7 linked regions of the Homo sapiens genome follow. The protein of the gene in region 1 purifies or fractionates together with the protein of each later gene. This does not show direct contact. Each region holds a gene or a part of one and is shown in the gene's direction. Other genes may lie near its edges.

The links.
Region 2: the proteins of NPAS1 (region 1) and FAM83D purify together in Homo sapiens (affinity purification with mass spectrometry; 2 studies listed by BioGRID and IntAct, with this or other methods). This does not show direct contact.
Region 3: the proteins of NPAS1 (region 1) and PSD3 purify together in Homo sapiens (affinity purification with mass spectrometry; one large-scale study listed by BioGRID and IntAct). This does not show direct contact.
Region 4: the proteins of NPAS1 (region 1) and ITPKC purify together in Homo sapiens (affinity purification with mass spectrometry; one large-scale study listed by BioGRID and IntAct). This does not show direct contact.
Region 5: the proteins of NPAS1 (region 1) and KIAA1671 purify together in Homo sapiens (affinity purification with mass spectrometry; one large-scale study listed by BioGRID and IntAct). This does not show direct contact.
Region 6: the proteins of NPAS1 (region 1) and PRUNE1 purify together in Homo sapiens (affinity purification with mass spectrometry; 2 studies listed by BioGRID and IntAct, with this or other methods). This does not show direct contact.
Region 7: the proteins of NPAS1 (region 1) and PPP6R1 purify together in Homo sapiens (affinity purification with mass spectrometry; 2 studies listed by BioGRID and IntAct, with this or other methods). This does not show direct contact.

Annotation. Positions count from the first base shown.
Region 1 is NC_000019.10:47,026,337-47,029,836, forward strand, and holds part of NPAS1 (neuronal PAS domain-containing protein 1), read left to right. Parts: intron 1-3,500. UniProt on the Homo sapiens protein: May control regulatory pathways relevant to schizophrenia and to psychotic illness. May play a role in late central nervous system development by modulating EPO expression in response to cellular oxygen level.
Region 2 is NC_000020.11:38,939,917-38,943,416, forward strand, and holds part of FAM83D (protein FAM83D), read left to right. Parts: intron 1-2,042; coding exon 2,043-2,210; intron 2,211-3,500.
Region 3 is NC_000008.11:18,874,204-18,877,703, reverse strand, and holds part of PSD3 (PH and SEC7 domain-containing protein 3), read left to right. Parts: intron 1-3,500. UniProt on the Homo sapiens protein: Guanine nucleotide exchange factor for ARF6.
Region 4 is NC_000019.10:40,720,112-40,723,611, forward strand, and holds part of ITPKC (inositol-trisphosphate 3-kinase C), read left to right. Parts: intron 1-3,500. UniProt on the Homo sapiens protein: Catalyzes the phosphorylation of 1D-myo-inositol 1,4,5-trisphosphate (InsP3) into 1D-myo-inositol 1,3,4,5-tetrakisphosphate and participates to the regulation of calcium homeostasis.
Region 5 is NC_000022.11:24,955,716-24,959,215, forward strand, and holds part of KIAA1671 (uncharacterized protein KIAA1671), read left to right. Parts: intron 1-3,500.
Region 6 is NC_000001.11:151,018,449-151,021,948, forward strand, and holds part of PRUNE1 (exopolyphosphatase PRUNE1), read left to right. Parts: intron 1-18; coding exon 19-221; intron 222-3,500. UniProt on the Homo sapiens protein: Phosphodiesterase (PDE) that has higher activity toward cAMP than cGMP, as substrate. Plays a role in cell proliferation, migration and differentiation, and acts as a negative regulator of NME1. Plays a role in the regulation of neurogenesis.
Region 7 is NC_000019.10:55,245,518-55,249,017, reverse strand, and holds part of PPP6R1 (serine/threonine-protein phosphatase 6 regulatory subunit 1), read left to right. Parts: intron 1-1,908; coding exon of another isoform or gene 1,909-1,914; coding exon 1,915-2,141; intron 2,142-3,339; coding exon 3,340-3,500. UniProt on the Homo sapiens protein: Regulatory subunit of protein phosphatase 6 (PP6). May function as a scaffolding PP6 subunit. Involved in the PP6-mediated dephosphorylation of NFKBIE opposing its degradation in response to TNF-alpha.

The DNA of each region.
Region 1 (3,500 bases):
AGGCCCTGAGGCAGGTGGGGATCAGCTTGCTGGGTGCAGAGCCTCATGCACTGTGGTAGGGGTTTGGCTGTTACCCACAGTGAGAGGGGAGCCACAGAGGTGGTGAGGGCGGAAGTAGGAGCCCAGTGAGGATGAGGACGTGGTGGTCCAGCCAGGGCAGCTAGACTGGGCTGGGGCCATGGGTGGTGGAACACAGGTGACATGGTCAGGTCCAACCCCTGGGACTTGCTTAAAATGCATGTGGGTGTGAGAGACACAGAGGGCGGCCTCCAAGAAACCGCCCGAAAAGGCAGTGGTGCCCTGATGTTATCTGTAGTCATACTGAAAAGAAAAGTGCGGCCGGGGCGGTGGCTCACACCTGTAATCCCAGCACTTTGTGAGGCCGAGGCAGGTGGATCACCTGAGGTCAGGAGTTCAAGACAAGCCTGACCAATATGGTGAAACCCCGTCTCAACTAAAAATACAAAAATTAGCCGGGCATGGTGGTGGTGCCTGTACTCCCAGCTACTTGGGAGGATGAGGCAGGAAAATCACGTGAACCAGGAGGCAGAGGTTGCGGTGAGCTGAGATCCTGCCACTGCACTCTAGCCTGGGTGTCAGTGCTAGATGCCGTCTCAAAAAAAAAAAAAAGAGAGAGAGAGAATGGTGGCATGACTCCCAGTATTAGGCACCTACTGTATGCACTAGCCCATTCAACTCTATCACTGTAGACCCATTTTACAGATGAGGCTGAGGAAAGTAAAGGCAAAGGTGACCCGGCACTGCCCCACCCCATGGTGCTTGCCCCCATGCAGCCCTCAGGCCTGCGGCGCTTTGACGATGGGGCATGTGAGGGACCCCTCTCCCCGACTTCCCTGGGTGATGAAGCCCCAGCCTCTTCTCTCCAGGACCCAGGGTCAGCACATTCCTTCAGGGCAGTTGAGAAGGGCAGGTGACGGGGGAGATCTGGGAACTTGGAAGAGGCCTTGGCTTCTGCCTTCTGCCCCTGGATCCCCCTCTCTCTGCCCCAGGTCCCCCCTCTCTCTGCCCCAGGTCCCCCCACACTCTGCACCCGGTTTCCCCCTCTCTCTGCCCCCTGGGTCCCCCTCTCTCTGCGCCTGGTCTCCCTTCTCTCTGCCCCTGGTCTCCCGTCTCTCTGCCCCTGGTCTCCCGTCTCTCTGCCCCTGGTCTCCCATCTCTCTGCCCCTGTTCTCCCTTCTCTCTGCCCCTGGTCTCCTGTCTGTCTGCCCCTGGTCTCCCTTCTCTCTGCCCCTGGTCTCCCGTCTCTCTGCCCCTGGTCTCCCGTCTCTCTGCCCCTGGTCTCCCGTCTGTCTGCCCCTGGTCTCCCTTCTCTCTGCCCCTGGTCTCCTGTCTGTCTGCCCCTGGTCCCCTTCTCTCTGCCCCTGGTCTCCCGTCTCTCTGCTCCTCGTGCTCCCTCTCTGCGCAAGAGATGAGGACACTGAGCAGGCTGTGATAAGAACCACAGCAAGTGTTTGTTAAATGGATGAGTGATGTTTGGGTTCTGGACATGGGAGGGCGGATGTGGAAGTGGTGAAAAGTCTCCTGCTGAATGTGGGGGACAGAGGAGTGGGGACATTTTGAGGGGAGAGGGAGAGGAGGAAACAGCGGGAGGCATCGGGGAGTTGGTGGGATCGGGAGGTGGAGGCTGGGGGTAAAAAGACACATCAGTCAGTGATCAGGAGACTCTGGGGGTCCCTTTCACAGGGGACCGGACCCGTGTATGGGGAAGAGCAGGTCCCCAAGCCCCCCCACCACCACACCCCCTAATCCCGACGTGCCCATTAATGTTGTTAATTGCAGCGGTTCAGTCTGACCCAGGCTGATCCTGGGAGAGGGAAAATGAAGGAATTAGCAAAAATGACAGGGGAAAATTGCGACAATTAGCAGGCAGCATTGTTCCTGCCTGTCACCCGGCTGGTTCCGAGCTGTATCTTGAGGGAGGGGGTCCCCGTCAACCCCCCAGCCCCCCAGTAATTGTTCCTGGAGCTCCAGGCGGAGGTGGAGGCAGGGAGGAACAGCCAGGAGGGTGTGGGGTACTCCTGGGAGGAGGAAGCTCAGCCCAGACACTAGGGGGCTGGGGAGGCGGGGGCTGCGCGCCCATGGGGGAGGGGCGGGGTTTCGCCGCCTGGTGTTTTGATGGTCGGGTAATAACAATAGTAATCACACTATTAATACCAGTCCCGGCTCTGTGCTGCAGCATCTGCTTCTGCCAGGCCCCAGCCAGGCCCTTCTGTCTGTTAAGTGGACTGAATGCGTAACCAGCCTGGGGAGTCACCGCTCCTGGCAAACCCGCTTGACAGAGGAGGAAACTGAGGCACAGAGCGGCAGAGAGGCTGGTCCCAGGGCACACAGCCAGGGAGGGGAAGCGCTGGGGCCTGACAGGAGACCTGGCCCCTTAGCCCCATAGGAAAAAGGCACTTGGGGACCCTCAAGGTCACCAAGTCTCTCCCCTGGCTCCCCACTCTCAGCACTGGGTTGGAGCTCCCTCGGGGGTTGTCCTCTGCAGGGTCAGGGTCACCCAGGGGTCCTGGGTGGGGACAGGCTCCGGGACCCCCAGGTCTCTGCCTACCCCCAGCACAAGGTCCAGGGTCCTAGCTCCTGACTGTAGGGAGGATGGGGCAGGGGGCACAGGTCTCACTTTGTCTTGGTCTCAGTTGCCATCTCTGTCTCTCTCTGCATCTCTTTTCCTCTGTCTCTCCATGTCTATTTTTTTTTTTAGTTTTTGTTTGTTTGTTTGTTTTTGTTTTTATTTTTGTTTTTTTGAGATGGAGTCTTGCTCTTGCTGCCCAGGCTGGAGTGCAATGGCACAATCTCGGCTCACTGCAACCTCTGCCTCCCGGGTTCAAGTGATTCTCCTGCCTCAGCCTCCAGAGTAGCTGGGACTACAGGTGCACACCACCACGCCCGGCTAGTTTTTCTGTAGTTTTAGTAGAGACAGGGTTTCACTATGTTGGCCAGGAAGGTCTCGAACTCCTGACCTCAGGTGATCTGCCCACCTCAGCCTCTCAAAGTGCTGAGATTATAGGCGTGAGCCACTGCACCCGGCCTTAGTATTTTTATTTATTATTATTATTATTATTGAGATGCAGTTTCACTCTTGTTGCCCAGGCTGGAGTGCAGTGGTGGGATCTCAGCTCACTGCAACCTCCACGTCCCGGGTTCAAGCAATTCTCCCTCCTCAGCCTCCCGAATAGCTGGGACCACAGGCACATGCTACCACACCCAGCTAATTTTTTGTATTTTTGGTAGAGACAAAGTTTCACCATGTTGGCCAGGCTGGTCTTGAACTCCTGGCCTCAGGTGATCCACCCACCTCCGCCTCCCAAAGCACTGAGATTACAGGTGTGAGCCACAGTGCCCGGCCTCCCCATTTTATTTACTCATTCATGAGTTGGACATTTGTGTGCTTTCCACCTTTTGAATGATGTGAAGTATGCTGCTATGAACACGCATGTACATGCTACAACGCCTGTTTTCAATTCTTTTGATTACATAGATTA
Region 2 (3,500 bases), on another chromosome or scaffold:
TCTTCCTGAGGAGGAAACTGAGGCTCAGAGAGATTAAGCCACTTGCCCAGGGTCACACAGCTGGTAGGTGGTAGAGCTGGGTTCTATGCCCAGAACTTTTGCCTTTAATTCCTGTTGTATGACCCGAATGAGTGGGATGAATAGAACTGTCAAAATAGGATGTGTAAAGCCAGTGGAGGATGTAAACTTCAGAGGATGCCACAAATTCAGAAAGAACGCTTCTCATTTTTTAAATCACTGTGTTCAGTGGGTTTCAGCCATGCCCTTTACCAAGAATAGCCCACAGCTTAGACCATCATTAAAAGGGGTGGGGTGGGAAAGGCAGCAGGAGAGTAACTGGTCTTCTCAACCCCCTCACAGCAATGACTTCCCAGGAACTGGTGTTTCAGGGTCTCACATCCTAGTAGACCAGGCCCTGGAGTGTTGGAGAAAGACAGCCAAATTGCCTTTTTGCCTCTTCATTCCTTCTTTAATCCCCCAAATCCTTAAGGAGTCATGACTGTCATATACTGTCCTAAGTCCTCTGGGACCACAGAAATGACTCAATCCCATTCAAGAGCCTTTGCTGCAGGAGAAGGAGTGAAACCCATAAATGAATAATCCTAACTTTCAGAAAAAGAGTTAATGTGATTCTGAGAGACAGGCTTTTACTGTGGAAATGGGGAGGAAGGAGAAACCCTTATATCTCCAGACTACAGAAGAGCCCCCAAGCCTCGGCTTCCTTAGTTAACACCCCCAACTTCTGACTCAGTTTGTCAGGACCTGTTTCTAAGCCTGGAGGTTTGGACACCCCCACTGCCCTGCCAGGAGTTTGCTGAGGACCTTGGTTTTAAGCCTGCAAAAGGTGTGATTAGAGGCATTGTGGCAGGAGCAGCCTGTCTTTAAAAGAGCGAGGAAAGCTAGGCGGTGTCTCCCTGTGTTGAACTGTCTGGACGGCTCCAGCTCTGGACTGGTAAAGTGAATAAACGAGCAGATACTAAGGGATCCTTTGTACCTTGCACTTTATGTAACATAGTCATTTAGTTCTCGATACAACCCTATTTTGCAGCTAAGGAAACAGACATTTGAAACAGCTGTAATTTGCCCAGGAATGCATGGCTAAAAGGTAGCTCTTAATTGTAGTCTGATGCTAGGTGTGGAAAATCACTTGGGAGGCATGAATGGAGCCATGTTGTTGGGGAGAAGAAAGGCCTGTTCTGAGCTTAAGGGCAGAATCCTTAGGAAATATTTCCCTGTTCTTTGCTGTGGGCTTGCACTATGGACGGATACCAAAGAACTGCAGAGAGAACCTTTTACTGAGGAGAGGCCAGTGCAGTGGAAGTCATTTGGTTAGAACCTGCCCAACAGACAGCTGATCAGGCCTGGCTGGTAGAAAGAACAGAATGTTAACAAATATGGTATGCAGTGTTAGGGAGGCAGAAGAAGGGAGAATCCATGGGCCTGCTTCGATTGCTTTCGAGTCATGAGTTGGTGGTGAATGGGACAGGCCTTAAAAAAGTCAGAGATTATGATTCAAAACCAGACAATAATTTAAAAAATAGATTTCGAGAATGCTACCCTCCAGAAGGGCCCTCAGAGAGAATCTGAGGTTTTATTTACTTGTTTAACGGACAGCAAACTGAAGCCTGGTGGGGAAAGCAACAAGCCAAAGATGACAGTGTGTTACCCACAGAACCAGACAGCTTGCTGATCTGAATAAGCCTGTAAGACAGGAGTTTAGTGGAGGAATAGAAGGTGAATGGAGCAGGTTCATAAGAGAGCAAGGCAGTGGATTGATCTGTATTTTTGAGAAACCTCCCAGCATGGAGTTGGGAGTGTTAGCTAGGCCAAGTCAAGATTTCTAGGACACGGGGCCCAAGTGTCTTTGGAGATGCAAAAGAGTCCATGGTGAGGGGGGCACCAACACTGCAGAAGGGGGAGGGAAGGATAACTGTTGGATAGGGATCATTTCCCAGTTCTGAGTGGAGTCCAGAGTCCAGAGAGCGTGCTGTAAGGTGGTGTCCTATAAGCTTATCATGTGCTCTTCCCTGTTTCACCTGTAGGTGATTGCAGTGGTCATGGACGTGTTCACAGACATCGACATCTTCAGAGACCTGCAAGAAATATGCAGGAAACAGGGAGTTGCTGTGTATATCCTTCTGGACCAGGCTCTCCTCTCTCAATTTCTGGATATGTGCATGGATCTGAAAGTTCATCCTGAACAGGAAAAGGTTTGTGGTACACTATATCCAGTTTCACCATAGTCAACAAATATGACCAAGCATCCATTATCTACAAGCTGGCTGGTGGCGGTATCCCTGTTTACAAGGAAGGGACTGAGGCTGTGAGCAAAGTCATTTGCCTGGTCTTACAGAAAACAAACAGTACCTGTGACCTGGCAATTCTCCTAGGTGTCTACCCAAGAGAAATGAAAATATGGGCCCCCACAAAAATTTATGTGTGAGTTTTATAGAAGCATTATTCATAAAGCCAAAGAGTGGAAACAATCCAATGCCAATCAACTGATAAGTGGATAAATGATATGTTGTCTATTCATACAATAGCATACTATTCACCTATAAAAAGGAATGAAGTGCTGATACATGCTACAGCATGGATGAACCTGCAAACGTGCTAAGTGAAGGAAACCGGTCACAAAAGACCACATATGATATGATTCCATTAAGTCAGAATAGGGAAATCTATAGAGACATTGATTAGTGGTTGCCTAGGGCTGGGGAGTTGGGGGAAGGACGGGATTATTGCTAAAGGGTACTTTATTTTAGCACTTTCTTTTTAAACTGATGAGAATGTCCTAAAATTGACTAACGGTGATGATGGTTGCATATATCTGTGGATATACTAAAAACTACAGAATTTGTGTTAATTGTATGATCTGTGAATTAGATCTCAGTTAAGCTCTTTAAAAGAAATGTTAGGATTCAAGACCTTGGCCTCTCCCCTGTACTGTCCTGCCTCTTAATAGAGCCTGGACCAGCTCCCTTGTTGAAGGCCTGAAGGCCACCCTGGAAGTTGCTGCTTTTGACAGTAGCTCCAGGAGGCTGCCCTTTTAATCACAGCAACCAGTATTTTTTGAGCCCCCACTCTGTCTTTGGCACTGCTCCATGCTTTTTTTTTTTTTTTCCTGAGATAGAGTCTCACTCTGTTGCCCAGGCTGGAGTACAGTGGCCCAATCTAGGCTCACTGCAACATCCCTCTCCCAGGTTCAAGAGATTATCCTGCCTCAGCCTCCCAGTTAGCTGGGATTACAGGTGCGTACCACCACACCTGGCTAATTTTTGTATTTTTAGTACAGATGGGGTTTTGCCATGTTGTCCAGGCTGGTCTTGAACTCCTACCTCAGATGATCTGCCTGCCTCGGCCTCCCAAAGTGCTGGGATTACAGGCATGAGGCCCCATGCCCAGCCTGCTCTGTGCTTTTAACAAATGTTATGTAACTGAATCCTCAAAGCAGCCCCTATCAGGTAAGTGGCACCTGTGTTTTAGACCAGGAAATAGTG
Region 3 (3,500 bases), on another chromosome or scaffold:
CAGGCATGGTGGTGCATGCGTATAGCCCCAGCTACTCGGAAGTCTGAGGTGGGAGGATCGCTTGAGTCCAGGAGGTCAACACTGCAGTGAACTGTGATTGCACCACCGTACTCCAGCCAGGGCGACAGAGTGAGATCCTGTCAAAAAGAAAAAAAAAAAAAAAAGATAGGCATCTAGCTCAATGGACTTGAGAGTCCAGAAATAAACCTTTGCATATATATTAATATATGTATATGTTTGATTTTTGACATGGGCACCAAGGCTTTTTGATGGGTAAAGAATAGTCTTTTCAACAGATAGCTCTGGGACAACTGGATATCCACATACAAAATAATGAAGTTGGATTTCTACTTCACATCATGTACGAAAATGAATTGAAAGTGGATGAGAGAGCTAAATGTAATAGCAAATACTGCAAAACTCTTAGAAGACAACGTAAAAGTAATCTTTGTGACGTTGGTTTAGACAATGATTTGCTACATATGATACAAAAAGCACAAGAGACCAAAGGAAAAACGGATAATTTGGATTTCAGCAAAAGTAAAAACGTTTGTGCTTCAGAAGACACTGTCAATTAAGTGAAAAATGACCACTCACAGAATGGTAGAAAACATTTGCAAAGTGTACATCTAATAAAGAACTTATGTCCAGAATATATAAAGAACTCTTAGAACTCAGTAATAAAAAGACAAATAATTCAGCCATCAAATGGGCATGTCTCTAAAAAAGATGCACAAATGGCCAAAAAACACATGACAAGGTGCTCAACATAATTAGTCATTAGGGAAATGCAAATGAGAATCACAGTGAGATACCACTTCTAGGATGTCTGTAACAATAAACAGACAATAATAGAATCTTAGACATTGCTTGTAGGAATGTAAATAGTGCATTTGCTTTGGAAAACTGTTCAGCAGTTTCTTAAAATATTAGACATAGGTTTACTATATGATCCAGAAATTTCACTCCTAGGTATATATAGAAGAGAATAACAAATATATTTAGGCCAGATGCGGTGGTTCATGTCTGTAATGCCAGCGCTTTAGGAGGCCGAGGCAGGCGTATCCTTTGAGCCCAGGAGTTCAAGACTAGCCTGGGCAACATGGTGGAACCCCATCTCTGCCAAAAGAAAAAAAAAGAAAAATTAGCTGGGCATGGTGGTGCATGCCTGTGCCTATAGTCCCAGCTACTCAGGAGGCTGAGGTGGGAGAATGGCTTGAGCCCAGGAGGTCAGGGCTGCAGTGAGCCATGATCGTCCCACTGCACTCCAGCCTGGGTGACAGAGTGAGACCCTGTCTCAAAAAAAGGAAGAAAAGAAAAAATGTATTTAGACCCTGAAACTTATATACACATTTTTTATTCATAGCAGCCAACAAGTTGAAACAACTCCAATATCTCATCAACTGATGAATGGCCAAAGAAAAGACTGCTCCCGTATGATGAAACATTATTTGGCAATAATAAAGAATGAAGTTCTCAGCCAGGCTCAGTGGCGCATACCTGTAGTCCAGCTACTTGGGAGGCTGAACTGGGAGGTTTGCTTGAGATCAGGAGTTTGAGACCAGCCTGGGAACCATAGAGAGACCCTGTCTCTCTTTACATGTAAAAAATAATAAAATAAAAGGAATGAAGTTTTGATAGATGATATGACATGAGTACACCTGACAACCTTGTGCCAGGTGAAAGAAGTCAGACCCCAAATGCCATATATTGTATGATTGCATTTATATGAAGTGTCCAGGATAGACCATTTCATAGAGATAGAAAGTATATTGGTAGTTACCAGGGGCTGAGAAAAGCTGAAATGGGGATTGGCTGCTTATGGATACAGGGTTTCTTTTTGGGAGTGATAAAAATGTTCTGGAATGGCCAGGCGCCATGGCTCACGCCTGTAATCCCAGCACTTTGGGAGGCCTAGGCGGGCGGATCACAAGGTCAGGAGATCGAGACCATCCTGGCTAACACTGTGAAACCCCGTCTCTACTAAAAAAATACAAAAAATTAGCCAGGCATGGTGATGGGCACCTGTATCCCAGCTCCTCGGGAGGCTGAGGCAGGAGAATGGCGTGTATCCAGGAGGCGGAGCTTGCAGTGAGCCGAGATCGCGCCACTGCACTCCAGCCTGGGTGACGGAGCAAGACTCCATCTCAAAAAAAAAAAAAGTTCTAGAATTAGATAGTGGTGATAGTTGTACAGTTTTGTGAATATACTAAAAATGCCTGAATCTTAAAAGGTGGAACCATGAAAAGACCTACTGCCTTCTTTACTGAAAGACATAAAATATCAATATTCCACCCTAGGAAGAAGGCTCTTTATTGTTTTTAGCTATCATCTTTTTCAATTCATTGTTTGAAAAGTCACTTCCTCTTCAGATGTAAGCAAGCTACATTTTATTAGTTCTGTCTTGTAGAAGGTGTTATAAATACTATCCCAGAGAAGTGCTTGTTAGATTCCATCAACACTTGATTCAGATTTAATTTTAAGAATATATTTCAGGCCAGGCATGGTGGCTCATGTGTGTAATCCCAAGGTCAAGGCGAGAGGATCATTTGAGGCCAGGAGTTTGAAACCAGCCTGGGCAACACAGTGAGACCCCATCTCTACAAAAAGTAAAAACGTTAGCTGGACATGATGGTGCATGCCTGTTGTGGTCCCAGCTACCCGAGAGGCTGGAGTGAGAGGATCACTTGAGCCGAGGAGTTCGAGGCTGCGGTGAGCTATGTTCGCACTCCCACACTCCAGTCTGGATGATAGAGTAAGATCCTGTCTTTAAAAAAGAGAAAAAAGTGTATATATTTCAAATTATTTTACAACATGGAATATGAAACAGCATGTACTCTCAGAGGTATTGCTATTTAACACACTGGGGGATACCGTGTGTTCAATAGCAATACACCTATTATTAGTAATTGTATCAGTAATTAATAATTATCAGTTATTAGGATAACTGATGTTTCCAAGTTACCTTGGAAATCAAATTTTTTTTTTTTTTTTTTTTTTTGAGATGGAGTCTTGCTCTGTCACCCAGGCTGGACTACAATGGTGCAATCTCGGCTCACTGCAACCTCTGCCTCCCAGGTTCAAATGATTCTCGTGCCTCAGCCTCCCAAGTAGCTGGGATTACAGGCAGAATCAAGTCTTTTCAGCCATTTCAGTGTATATATATACACAGACATTTATAAAATATTTCACTAAATAGGAAGGTTGTAGCTCTGCAGTAGTTTAAAAATGGTAACAATGGCCAGGTGCGATGGCTCATGACTGTAATCCCAGCATTTTGGGAGGCCGAGGCAGGTGGATCACGAGGTCAAGACATCGAGACCATCCTGGCCAACATGATGAAACCCCGTCTCTACTTAAAACAAAAAACAAAAATTAGCTGGGCATGGTGGCACGCACCTGTAGTCCCAGCTACTCTGGAGACTGGGGCAGAAGAATCACTTGAACCCGGGAGGTAGAGGTTGCAGTGAACCGAGATCGTACCACTACACTCCAGCCTG
Region 4 (3,500 bases), 6.3 Mb from region 1:
TCCCAGCACTTTGGGAGGCCGAGGCAGGGGGATCACCTAAGGTCAGGAGTTCAAGACCAGCCTGGCCAACATGATGAAACCCTGTCTCTACTAAAATACAAAAATTAGCCAGGCGTGTGATGGCGGGCACCTGTAATCCCAGCTACTTGGGAGGCTGAGGCAGGAGAATCGCTTGAATGTGGGAGGCGGAGGTTGCAGTGAGCCGAGATTGCACCACTGCACTCCAGCCTGGGTGACAGAGCAAGACTCGGTCTCAAAAAAAAAAAAACAAAAACAACAGATGGGGAAGCTGAGGCATAGAGAGGTGAGAGATTCTTTGCTTAGGGTTGGCCACGTCAAGTCAGAGCCAGGATTCTAACTCAGTTCTGGCTGAGTTTCAAACCCATCGTTTAAACCCTCCAGTGTGTAGATCTGTTCCTAACTTGTCTCCCTCCCAGGCCTCCCTATCTCCAGTTTTTTTCTCATCCTTCCAGAATCTGCCTCCATGGCCCAGCTTTGTCTGCTCAGGTGCCCTCTCTGAGAGCAGTCAGGGGCTCAGTGCTGCGTTTGGAGCCTCCGGTCTCCAGGCGCCTTCCCAGAATCGACTTCCTTCCCTCCTCCTGACCCCCTCTGCTGTAACTAGGCCTGAGTACACACTGTTCCTTGAACACTCTTCTGTTGTCCTGCCTCCACGCATTGCTCAAGCCGTTCCCACTGCCCAGCATACCCGTGCTTCCTTCTCCCTTAATTTTGAAATCCTCTCTGACCGTAAAGGCTCAGCTTCCTTTCTCCCTTTCCTCCTTCCTTCCTTCTCACCATCCTGTCCTTTTTTTAAAATTGTGTTCTCTTTCTTTTTCTTTTTTTGGTAGGGATGGGGTCTTGCTATCTTGCCCAGGCTGGTCTTGAACTCCTGGGCTCAAGTGATCCTCCTGCCTCAGCCTCCCAAAGTGCTGGGATTACAGGTGTGCTATCCTATTCTTCTAATGAGACAAAAATCACTCCCTAAGCCCCTACCATGTATTTGGTCCTATGTTAGCTTTGCTGGGGAAACAGCAGTGACCAAGACACTCATGGAGCTCCCAGGCCCATGAAAGAGACAGACCAATCAGCCGACAGTCACAGTTCAGAGTGGTCAGGAGGATGTGTGAGCCCAGAAGGAGGTCACTGGCCAGACACAGGGTATCAGAGAGGGCTTCCTGGAGGAAGGGGCATATAAGCTGAGACCATTGTGAAAAAAATCCGAGAAAGCCCAGATAAACCATTGGATCTAACTTTTTTTTTTTTTTTGGAGGGCGTGCAGTGCGGAGTTTCACTCTGTTGCCTAGGCTGAAGTGCAGTGGCGAGATCTCAGTTCACTGCAACCTCAGCCTCCCGGGTTCAAGTGATTCTCCTGCCTCGGCCTCCCAAGTAGCTGGGACTACAAGCGCACGCCACCACGCCCGGCTAATTTTTTTTTTTAGTAGAGAGTGGGTTTCACTATGTTGGCCAGGCTGGTTCTGAGCTCCTGACCTCAGGTGATCCACCCACCTCAGCCTCCCAAAGTGCTGGGATTACAAGCATGAGCCACTGTGCCCGGCCCGGATCTAACATAAAACAGAGAGAGAAGATATTATGTTTATGATTAAGGGGCCAGGTGTGGTGGCTTATGCCTATAATCCCAGCACTTTGGGAGGCTGAGGTGGGAGGATTGCCTGAGCCCAGAAATTTGAGACCACCCTGGGCAACACAGTGAGACCTCATCTCTACTAAAAGGAAAAAAGAACTAGCTAGATGTGGTGGTATATGCCTGTTTTCCAGCTATTCGGGAGGCTAAAGCAGGAGGATTGCTTGAGCCTGGGAGGCAGAGGTTGCAGTGAGCCAAGATCACACCTCTGCACTCCAGCCTGGGCAACAGAGTGAGATCCTGTCTCAAAAAAAAAAAAAATTACTATTAAAAAAATCCCAACTAACATTCTTCAGTCCAAGCATCAAAGAATGTTTCTGGAGCGTCTGTCGTGTGCCAGGCCATGTGCTGGGGACATAATCATAACCATGACAACCCCAGTCTCTGCCATCATGAGCTTGTAGTCCAGCAAGTGTGTAGGGGATAAGCCCCAAGGCACTGGGATCCAACCAGAGCTAGAACCCCAGCGCTGTGTGGGGTGATGTTAGGTAAGTGGCTTCACCTCTCAGACCCTCTGTTTCCTCCTTTGTAACACCGAGACGATAATCTCCCTGGGGTTGTGTTTTTAGAAATTAAGTAGGTTGTGGCACACTGAGTCTTTGTCATTGTGTCTGGAATGTTCCAGGTACTTAGTAAACAGGAACCTTTATTAATCATCTCTTCCCCAGGGCCGGCAGCTGGATTGGGGAGGGACTAGCCCTTCCCGAACCCTGACTCCCTCTTAACCTTCCCACTGTCAAAGAGATGTCTGTGAGGTAGCTGGGCTCTGAGGGGGCGGGAGAGATGAACACGTCCCTGATCCTGGGGTAGGAGAGGGATGAGCCATACAGTTTCCTTCTCTGGAGGTGACCCACTCTTCCAGTACTTGCTAAGGGACTTGACATGCTTGTGGGGTGCAGAATGTATTCCTGTGTGTGTATGTGTTCATGAATCAGACACTAACCCTGTCTCAAAAAGCTCATAGTTTAGTCGGCATGATACAACGAAAACCCTGTTTTCTATTTGCTTCTCTGGTTTTCTTTCTTTCTTTCTTATTTTTTTGAGTCAGGGTCTCACTGGGTCACCCAGTCTGGAGTGCAGTGGCACAATCACTGCTCACTGCAGCCTCACCCTCCAGGGCTCAAGTGATCCTCCCACCTTAGCCTCCTGAGTAGCTGGGACTACAGGTGCACACCACCACGCCTAGCTGATTCTTAATTTTTTATTTATTTATTTATTTATTTTTTGAGATGGAGTCTCGCTTTCTCGCCCAGGCTGGAGTGCAGTGGCACAATCTCGGCTCACTGCAACCTCTGCCTCTCAGGTTCACACCATTCTCCTGCCTCAGCCTCCCGAGTAGCTGGGACTGCAGGTGCCCGCCACCATGCCCAGCTAATTTTTTGTATTTTTAGTAGAGACGGGGTTTCACTGTGTTAGCCAGGATGGTCTCAATCTCCTGACCTCATGATCCGCCTGCCTCAGCCTCCCAAAGTGCTGGGATTACAGGCATGAGCCACTGCGCCCGGCCTAATTTTTAAACATTTTGTAGAGATGGGGTCTTGCTATATTGCCCAGGCTGGCCTCAATCTCCTGGGCTCAGTGGTCCTCCCACCTTGGTTTCCCAGTGTTGAGATTACAGGCGTAAGCCATCGTACCCGCTGCTTTTGTGGTTTCCTTTGTTCTCTCTCTCTTTGTCTACTTCTGTTCATCTTTTTCTTTTCATCATTACTTTGTATCTCTCTCTTTTAGTCTTCCTATATTTGTTTTGTTTTTTTTTTGTTTTTGAGACAGTCTTGCTCTGTCGCCCAGGCTGGAGTGCAGTGGCGTGTTCTTGGCTCACCGCAACCTCTGCCTCTCGGGTTCAAACGACTCTCATGCC
Region 5 (3,500 bases), on another chromosome or scaffold:
GCAGGCTGCTAGAAAAATCCAGGTGAGAGGCCAGGCGCGGTGGCTCACGCCTGTAATCCCAGCACTTTGGGAGGCCAAGGCAGGACGATCACGAGGTCAGGAGATCGAGACCATCCTGGCTAACATGGTGAAACCCCATCTCTACTAAAAATACAAAAAAATTAGCCAGGCATGGGGCAGGTGCCTGTTCTCCTGGCTACTTGGGAGGCTGAGGCAGGAGAATGGCATGAACCGGGGAGGCGGAGCTTGCAGTGAAGCAAGATCATGCCACTGCACTCCAGCCTGGGCGACAGAGTGAGACTCCGTCTCAAAAAAAAAAAAAAAAAAGAAAAGAAAAAAGAAAAATCCTGGTGAGAGACCGCGGTGCGCGGTGGACTGGACGTAGAGACCAATGGTGTTGGAGGGGTGTTCACTGACAACTTTGACATTGATCAGTGTTACATTTAGAGAGCCACTCACTTTGAAGATCCCTTCCTCAAGGTGGGTGTAACAGTCTACCTGGGGTAAGGAAACCCCTCAGAGGGAGTGGTATCAGTACTGAATTCAGTTTAGCAAACCTGCTTTAGAACCCTGTGCCTGTTCAGGGGTAGGTATAAAACATGCCAGTCCTCAAGGACTTCCTGTGGGGAGACATGGGGCACATTATTCCCATTTCACTGATGCAGGCCTCTGTGGCATTGTGAGGCGTTTGCCAGGCAGCAGTGGCAAAGCAGGAATTTGAACTCCCTTCCAACTTGCAACTAGTGAATATTTGGGTTCAGGTTAAGCCGTAGAGAAGCAACAGAGGAAGGTGGGTTTCAGTTGGGTGTGGAAGGGATAAATTGAAGGAGCCTTCCCGGAGGAGGCAGATAGAAGGGAGGGAGCCAGCCAGCCGGGCGTGGTGGCTCACGCCTGTAATCCCAGCACTTTGAGAGGCCGAGGCGGATGGATCACGAGATCAGGAGATCGAGACCATCCTGGCTAACACGGTGAAACCCCGTGTCTACTAAAAATACGAAAACAAAAAATTAGCCGGGCGTGGTGGCGGGTGCCTGTAGTCCCAGCTACCTGGGAGGCTGAGGCAGGAGAATGGCGTGAACTGGCGAGGCGGAGCTTACAGTGAGCCGAGATAGTGCCACTGCACTCCAGCCTGGGCGAGAGAGCGAGACTCTGTCTCAAAAAAAAAAAAAAAAAGAAGGGAGGGAGGGAATCAGCCAGAGATAGTCCAGGGCAAACCCTGGCCCTGCCTGCTCCTGGCTGTGGCCTTGGGCATGGTTATGGTTTTGAGACTCGACTTCCCTATCTGTAAAAAGGGCTCATGATAGGATACTCCCATTCTCAAAAGGTTCTTATGTGAGTTTACTGAAGCAGTGTATGGACAGTGCTAGGCCCCGTGTCTATGCTCTGTAAGGGGTGGTATGATTATTATCACTATAGCCTGTCATCAGGATAAGTTCCAGGTGGGTGGTGCTTTGCTCAACCTGGTGTGTGCCTGTGTGTGTTGGGGGGAGAGAGGGAGTGACCCACAGGTGATACTTGAGTCTTAAAGGATGAGTAGGAGGGAGGGCTGGGACATTCCAGGCAGAAGCAACAGCACTGGCAAAGGCATAGATCGCCTGGAGAACTGCATGCCAACTGATATACCCAGAATTCAGGATGTGCTGAATGAATAAAAGTTAGACCATGGGCAGCAAAAATTCCTTTTATACCCCAGACACTCCCTGAATTTCTAAACCTGAAGGCTTTGGCAGGTTTGGGACAGAGAGGAGGGCAGGAGCATCCCTGTCCAGGAGTTCACTCTCCTTCTTCCACTCACCCATCCAGATTATAGGAGTGTGAACCTAGATAAGCCATGTCCCCCCGGGACCTCAGTTTCTTCCTCTGTAAAATGGGAGGACTGGGGAGAATGTAGGTAAAGCACATAGTGCATCAGAGCTGCGCTGTTATGCCAGAATCTGGGCTAAGCTCTTTTGTTCCTTTTTTTTTTTTTTTTTTTTTTTGAGACGGAGTTTTGCTCTTATTGCCCATGCTGGAGTGCAATGGCAGGATCTCGGCTTACTGCAGCCTCCACCTCCTGGGTTCAAGTGATTCTCCTATCTCAGCCTCCCGAGTAGCTGGGATTACAGGCATGTGCCACCACGCCTGGCTAATTTTGTTATTTTTATTAGAGACAGGGTTTCTCCATGTTGGTCAGGCTGGTCTCGAACTCTCGACCTCATGTGATCCACCCACCTCGGCCTCCCAAAGTGCTGGGATTACAGGCACCCGGCCTTTTTTTTTTTTTTTTTTTTTAATATTTTACAACAAACCCAGGTGGTGCCTGTTTTTGAGACCCTCGACTTTACAGTTCATGAAACTGAGGCTTCAAGAGGTTATTGATGTGCTGCGAGGTCACGCAGCGGGAAAGTGGAAGAGCTGGGATTTGAACCCAAAGCTGTCTGCCTCAAAGCCATGCCCTTCCCACTTGCATGGCTCCCAACACAAGGAGGGGTGCTTCTGCCTAGTCTCACTACTCAAACTGCTGCCATTTAAGAAGAAGCTAAGGCCAAGCACAGTGGCTCCTGTCTGTAATCCCAGCGCTTTGGGAGGCTGAGATGGGAGTATTGCTTGAGCCCAGGAGTTTGAGACCAGCCTGGGCAACATAGCGAGACTGTCTCTGAAAAAACAATTTAAGACCGGGTGAGGTGGCTCACGCCTGTAATCTCAGCACTTTGGGAGGCTGAGGTGGGCGGATCACCTGAGGTCAGGAGTTCGAGAGCAGCCTGGCCAACATGGTGAAACCCCGTCTCTACTAAAAATACAAAAATCAGCCAGGCGTGGTGGTGGGGCACCTGTAATCCCAGCTACTCGGGAGGCTGAGGCAGGAGAATCCCTTGAACCCCGGAGGTGGAGGGTGTGGTGACCTGAGATCATGCCATTGCAATCCAGCCTGGGTGACAGAGCAAGACTCTGTCTCTTAAAAAAAAAAAAAAAAAGGTTAAAAATTAGTCTGGCGGTCAGGCACAGTGGCTCACACCTGTAATTCCAGCACTTTCGGAGGCAGAGGCAGGTGAATCACCTGAGGTCAGGAGTTCAAGATTAGCCTAGCCAACATGGAAAAACCCTCTCTCTACTGAAAATACAAAACAAAACAAAAAAATAGCCAGGTATGGTGGCACATGCCTGTAATCCCAGCTACTTGGGAGGCTGAGGCAGCAGACTGCTTGAACCTGGGAGGTGGAGGTTGCCCTGAGCCGAGATTGTGCCACTGCACTCCAGCCTGAACGATAGAACAAAACTTCGTATCAAAAAAAAAAAAAAAAAAGAAAAGAAAAGAAAAAAAATTAGCCTGGCAGTGTGTCAGGCTGTGTCCCATCTAATTCAGAGGCTGAGACAGGAGCATTGCTTGAGCTCAGGAGTTCGATGCTGCAGTGAGCTTTGATTGCACCACTGCACTTTAGCCTGAGACAGAGTGAGTCCTTGTCTCAAATAAATAAATACATAAATACATAAAAATTTAAAAAATTAAAATTAAAAATAAA
Region 6 (3,500 bases), on another chromosome or scaffold:
TTTCACTTTCCTATCTAGACAACTGAGGCTGAGGAAGTCTTTGTGCCAGTTTTAAATATAAAACGTTCTGAACTACCTCTGCGAGGTGACATTGTCTTCTTTCTTCAGAAGGTTCATATTCCAGAGAGTATCTTGATTTTTCGGGATGAGATTGACCTCCATGCATTATACCAGGCTGGCCAACTCACCCTCATCCTTGTCGACCATCATATCTTATCCAAGTAAGCACAAGGAAATTAAATTGCTACCTATCATGTACCATGCTGGGCTCTGATGAGTGAGATATAAAGAGAGGAAGAAAGAGTTTTTGCTGGCTGGGCATGGTGGCTCATGCCTGTAATCCCAGCACTTTGGGAGGCCAAGGCGGGCGGATCACCTGAGATCAGGATTTTGAGACCAGCCTGGACAACATGGCAAAACCCCGTCTCTACTAAAAATATAAAAATTAGCTGGGCGTGGTGGCAAGTGCCTGTAATCCCAGCTACTTGGGAGGCTGAGGCGGGAGAATCACTTGAACCTGGAAGGTGGTGGTTGCAGTGAGCCGAGATCGTGCCACTGCACTCCAGCCTGAGCGACAGAGCCAGACTCCGTCTCAAAAAAGAAAGAGTTTTTGCTTTCAGGGATCTCATAGGCTAATCATAATTGATAGGTCATATTAGATATAGAAAAACAACACAAAATATTGTCAGTTCTGCAGTTATATGTATGTCTGTGGCATATAGACATACCCTATAATAAAAAGAAATAGAACGTGTTGAGTTCAAACTAAAGGGTAACTCAAAAATCATTTAAATCTGCCTTTGGTATCATTATTTAAGATTTTGTGTGCCGGGTGTGATGGCTCACGCCTGTAATCTCAGCACTTTGGGAGGCCAAGGCAGCCAGATCCATTAAGCTCCAGGAGTTCAAGACCCGCCTGAGCAACATGGCAAAACCATGTCTTTACAAAAAATTTTTAAAAATTAGGCACGGTGGTGCATGCCTATGGTCCCAGCTACTCGGGAGGTTGAGGTGGGAGGATCACTTGAGCCCAGGAGGTCGAATCTGCAGTGAGCCAAGATCACACCACTCCACTCCAAGCCTGGGAGACAGAGGGAGACCCTGTCTCAAAAAAAAAAAAAAAAAAGATTCTGAGACAGATTTATTGTAATAGAAACCTTTGAAAAATGTTTGCAATTCTCTTTTTATTTTTTTACTTATTATTTATTTTTGTACTTACTTATTAAATTTTTTTTAGAGAAGAGGGTCTTGCTATATTGCCCAGGCGGATCTCAAATTCCTAGGCTCATGCTATCTTCCTGCCTCTGCCTCCCTAAGTGCTGGTTTATAGGTGTGAGCCACCACACCTGGCCTGCAACTCTATTTTTAATTTTAATTTTAATTAATTATTTTTTTTTGAGATGGAGTCTTGCTCTGTCACCCAGGCTTCAGTGCAGTGGTGTGATCTCGGCTCACTGCAACAACCTCTGCCTCCTGGGTTCAAGCGATTCTCCCTGCCTCAGTCTCCTGAGTAGCTGGGATTACAGGTGCGCGCCACCATGCCCAGCTAATTTTTATATTTTTTACTGGAGACAGGGTTTTGCGCTGTTGGCCAGGCTGGCCTGGAACTCCTGACCTCAGATGATCTGCCCACTTTGGCCTCCCAAAGTGGTGGGATTACAGGCGTGAGCCACCACACCTGGCCTATTTTTAATTTTTAAAAAGTGGCCTGGTGTGGTGGCTCACGCCTGTAATCCCAGCACTTAGGGAGACCTGTCTGACCACTATAGCGAGACCCTGTTCTCTAAAAAAAAATAATAAATACAAAAATCTATAAACATAGTGTGACCTTGTCTCTACTAAAAATAAAAAAATTTGCCAGGTGTGGTAGTGCATGCCTGTAGTCCCAGCTACTTAGGAGGCTGCTGAGGTGGTAGGATCACTTGAGCCTAGGAATTGAGGCTTCAGTAAGCCATGATCACATCACTGTACTCCAGCCTGAGTGACAGGGCAAGAACTTGTCTCCAAAAAAATTTTTTTAAGTTATCAAAAGGGCCAGGTGTGGTGGCTCACACCTGTAAACCCAGCACTTTGGGAGGGTGAAACAGGAGGGTTGCTTGAGCCCAGGAGTTCAAGACCAGCTTGGGCAAGATGGTGAGATCCCATCTCTACAAAAAAATTTAAAAGCACACAAAAAGTTAGCAAAAGTTTTTCTACATAAACTCTTACGATTTTAGAATAATGTATTATGTTAGAATATATAAATATCTCAGGCCAGGCGCGGTGGCTCATGCCTGTAATCCCAGCACTTTGGGAGGCTGAGGGGGGCGGATCATGAGGTCAGGAGATGGAGACCATCCTGGCTAACATGGTGAAAACCCGTCTCTACTAAAAAATACAAAAAATTAGCCGGGCATGGTGGCGGACGCCGATAGTCCCAGCTACTCGGGAGTCTGAGGTAGGAGAATGGCATGAACCCGGGAGGCGGAGCTTTCAGTGAGCTGAGATCATGCCACTTGCACTCCAGCCTGGGCGACAGAGCAAGACTCCATCTTAAAAAAAAAAAAAAATAGCTGGGCGTGGTGGCTCGCGCCTGTAAGTCCCAGCTACTTGGGAGGCTGAGGCAGGAGAATCGCTTGAACCTAGGAGGTGGAGGTTGCAGTGAGCCAAGATCGCGCCACTGCGCTCCAGTCTGAGCGACAGAGTGATGCTCTGTCTCAAAAAAAAAAAAAAAAAAATTAGCCAGGCCGGGCGTGGTGGCTCACGCCTGTAATCCCAGCACTTTGGGAGGCTGAGGCGGGCAGAATCACCTGAGGTCAGGAGTTTGAGACCAGCCTGACCAACATGGAGAAACCCCATCTCTACTAAAAATACAAAATTAGCCAGGCGTGGTGGCACATGCCTGTAATCCCAGCTACTCAGGAGGCTGAGGCAGGAGAATTGCTTGAACATGGGAGCCAGAGGTTGCGGTGAGCCGAGATCATGCCATCGCACTCCAGCCTGTGCAACAAGAGCGAAACTCCGTCTCAAAAAAAAATTTTTTTTAATCTATAAATATCTCAATAATGTCTGTTTAACAAATGTACACATTTATAATAATTCCATCCCTAATTTACTACTGGAAAAAACTACCAAAAAAGCAACACGATTATGTGACTTTCCTAAGTCTGTTTGGCTCCTGCTAATATTTTTTTCTTGAGCACATTGTGGTTATAGCAGGATACTGACAGAAGGCAGCCTGAGAGAGCATTATCCATCTATGGATTCATTCAGTAATAAACTTTCCTTTTTTTTTCTTTTTTTTTTTTGAGACAGAGTTTTCTCTTGTTGCCTAGGTTGGAGTGCAATAGTGCAATCTAGGCTCACTGCAACCTCCGCCTCCCGGGATAATTTTGTGTGTGTGTGTGTGTGTGTGTTTTTAGTAGAGATGGGGCTTCACCATGTTGGTCAGGCTGGTCTTCAACTCCTGACCTCAGGTGATCCGCCCACCTCGGACTCCCAAAGTGCTGGGATTACAGGTA
Region 7 (3,500 bases), 8.2 Mb from region 1:
TGTTGCCAATCTAGAGTTACCGAGGCAGACGGGCAGACTGGGAGCAAGGTCTGGACTGCAACCTTCTGTGCTGAGCCCAGCCTTAGGGTGGTCAGGGTGGATGAGCAAGGAGATCCTGGCCCCAGGCTGGCCTGGCTTCAAGCTAGCCAGGAAGGAGAGGAAAGGAGGCCCAAGAGGCGTTCGACCTGCCTGAGGCCATGTGTGGGACTCTGTCCTGCGTTTTGTCAGCCCAGGCTGCTCTCCTAAGCTCCGATGAAGTCTCTTCCCTGGGCCTGGTGCTCCACGTCTCCCTGTCTCTTCCCTGGGGCCTGGGGCTGAGTCAGGCCTGGGGGCTGGTGGGCACTGAGGTGACAGGTCAGCAGGGCTCGAGGAGATGGTGGAGGCCTGTGCAGAGGGAATGACTGAACTGGAAGAAGCTGCAGAAGGGCATTGGAGGAGAGGGACTAGCATCTGTGCCTGGGAGTGATGGTGGTGAGGGCCTGCGGGAGAGGCACCCTTGGCCTCTTGTGCCGGCTCTGCTCTGTTCTCAGCATCCTCTGTAGTGACTTGGGGGTAGCAGTGGCCTCTGCCTTAGCTGGTGATGCGGTTGTCAGGAGGCAGGTAATGAGCGTGAGCTCTGGTCAGTGTCTTAACTGGTGAGAGCTCCGTGAAGGCTGTCTGCTGGGACCAGATGGCCTTCGAGATTCCAGGATGCCGCCTGACTTACCGGGCTTTGGTTGCCCCTTGTCCTGTGTGGCGGAGTGATGACAGCTTTCTTGGGGGCTGCTGGTGAGCTTGGACATCATGTGCACAGCACACATGCAGAGCCAGGACCATTGTCATCAAGTGCCCAGAGCACAGGTCACAGGTCAGGTCTGTAGTGGAAGGTCTGTGTGGAGGCTTTCTAGGGCTCTGCGGAGCAGTGATGTAGTACAGGGCAGGGGCTCAGAATGGAGTTGCCTGGCATCTTGTTAATACTCTGTGTGTGTTTCCTTATTGCCAGTGAGTTCCCATGCACGAGCGTTTAGGGGCTGGAACCAGGCTGAGGAACCAGGCACTGTCCTCCAGAGGGCGGGAGCCAGCTCCAGATGGGGACAGGGTCAGGGCCGGGTGTTGCCAGCTTTGTTCTTCCCCCACAGAATCTGTCTATCCCACCCTGGGTTCCTTCAGGTCCTGGTCAGTGACTATTCTGGGAGCCCCTCCCTTCCAACTTTTCCTCTTCCTTGTTCCAGCCCAGGTGCTGGGTGAGAGGATGGTTGGGGTGTGTTTGTGTGTGAGTGGTGTCCAGGCAACGGCCACAGCCTGGAGATGCACAGACTTCCTCTCTTCCCCCTGCCGCCGCCCCATGCCTCCCACGTAGCCTTGGGGGATTTGCTGGGCCAAGCAGCAGCCGTGTGCTGGAAGTCATCGGGCATCTGAGTTTGTTGAGCAAATACAGGTTGAAGCAAATTTGAAGCCAGAGGTTAAGGCCCTGCCTCTGCAGTGTCTCTCCCAAAAGTAGGGATAGTGGACCCAGACCCTCATGGGGAGACAGGGCCCGAGGCCCCTCAGTGCACAGGGTCCAGCCTCTTCTCGCAGGCCCTGCACATGGTCCACACCTGGGGACTTCACCAGGCCTGAGGCCTCAGGTGTGAAATGACCCCCTGGACCTCAGGCGAGGCGGCCGGGAGGCTGGAGATGGGGGAAGAGGGGCAGGCTCGAGGGCAACTGCAGGAGCCTGGTGCTCACTGGGAGCCTTAAGCCTGAGTGATGGAGGCAGTGAGCCTGCGGGCAGTCCCGGGGCGGGGCCGGGCTCAGCATGAGGCAGAGGGCTGGGACTTGGGGAGAGGCTGTGCCCAAGGTGGGCACTCAGCCCCTGTGGTCAGTGCCTCGTCCAGTGGGGACTCCCTGGGGCGTCTGACGCGGCGCTGGTTGTGTCTATGCCTGCAGGGCGCCATGTTTTGGAAGTTTGACCTGCACACAAGCTCGCACCTGGACACGCTGCTGGAGCGGGAGGACCTGAGCCTGCCCGAGCTGCTGGACGAGGAAGACGTGCTGCAGGAGTGCAAGGTCGTCAACCGCAAGCTGCTGGACTTCCTGCTGCAGCCACCCCACCTGCAAGCAATGGTGGCCTGGGTCACCCAGGAGCCGCCAGATAGCGGTGAGGAGCGGCTGCGCTACAAGTGAGTTCCCCAGCTCCTGGCCAGCCCGTCCCTATCAGCATCACACATACCTTCACTACGCAAGCCTCACAGCTACCCTGAAATGCGTCAGTGTCAGTAAACTCCAGTTTGGGGATGAGGAAGACGAGGCTGGGAGCAGCCAGGCTCCTGCACAAGGCCTCACAGCTCACCGGGTGCAGACCAAGCCTGTGCTCTGGAGGGCAGTGGCACAGTCACGGGTCACGGCAGCCACAAATTCACGGGCCCAGGTGATCCTCCCGCCTCAGTTGCCCGAGTAGCTGGGACCACAGGCATGTGACGACATGCCCGGCTGGTTTTTCTCTTTATTCGCCGCCTTTTATTTTATTTACTTTTTATTAAACTTTTTTTGTATGTTTGTGAAACACTTGTCTGCTATTGAAGACACTTTACTTATTTTTTAATCCAAGCGATGCTGAAAAGACACTTTTTTTTTTTTTTTTGAGACTCACTTTATCACCAGGTTGGAGTGCAGAGGCATGATCGGCTCACTGCAACCTCCTCCTCCCAAGTTCAAGTGATTCTCCTGCCTCACCCTCCTAAGTAGCTGGGACTATAAGCCAGCACGCCCAGCTAATTTTTGTATTTTTGGTAGAGACAGGGTTTCGCCATGTTGCCCAGGCTGGTCTTGAACTTCTGACCTCAAGTGATATGCCTGCCTCAGCCTCCCAAGGGGTACCTCCCCACAGTCCTGGAGCAGACTGTGGCCCCTCAGGGCCTTGAGTGGCACGCTGGTGGGGCAGCTCTTGTCTTGGAGCCGTCAGGCACCGTGTGAAAGTTTGGAGGAGGGAGGCAGGAGGTGAGGTTGGAAGTTGAGCAAGGTTCCAGGAGTCAGCCGGAGCTGGGGCAGCATACGGGGTTGCAAGTGAAGCCGCTGAGAGGCAAAAGGGATGAGTGTTAGCTGCTGGGGGATTGGGAAGCGCAGGAGCTTCAGGACCAGCTTGTCTTGGGGGTGGTAAGGAGCCTAGGATGGGATGGTTGGGTGTTAGCAGGGTGGAGGAGGCCTGGTGTGGGCCCTTGTTTCTGCGTCACCCTGTCCTCTGCCCTTTCCCCTTCCTGGACAGGGGTCTCTGCAGTTCCCAGAAACCCAGTGCCCGGTGCAGAGAAGAGGGTGGAGCCTTGCCGCCCCCTGCCCCCGGCCTCCGACCCGAGCCCCCACCCGCCTGTGCTTGCCTCCCAGGTACCCCAGTGTGGCCTGCGAGATTCTGACCTCAGATGTGCCCCAGATCAATGATGCCCTGGGTGCTGATGAGTCCCTTCTGAACCGGCTCTACGGCTTCCTGCAGAGCACCGGCAGCCTCAACCCACTGCTGGCCAGCTTCTTCAGCAAGGTCATGGGCA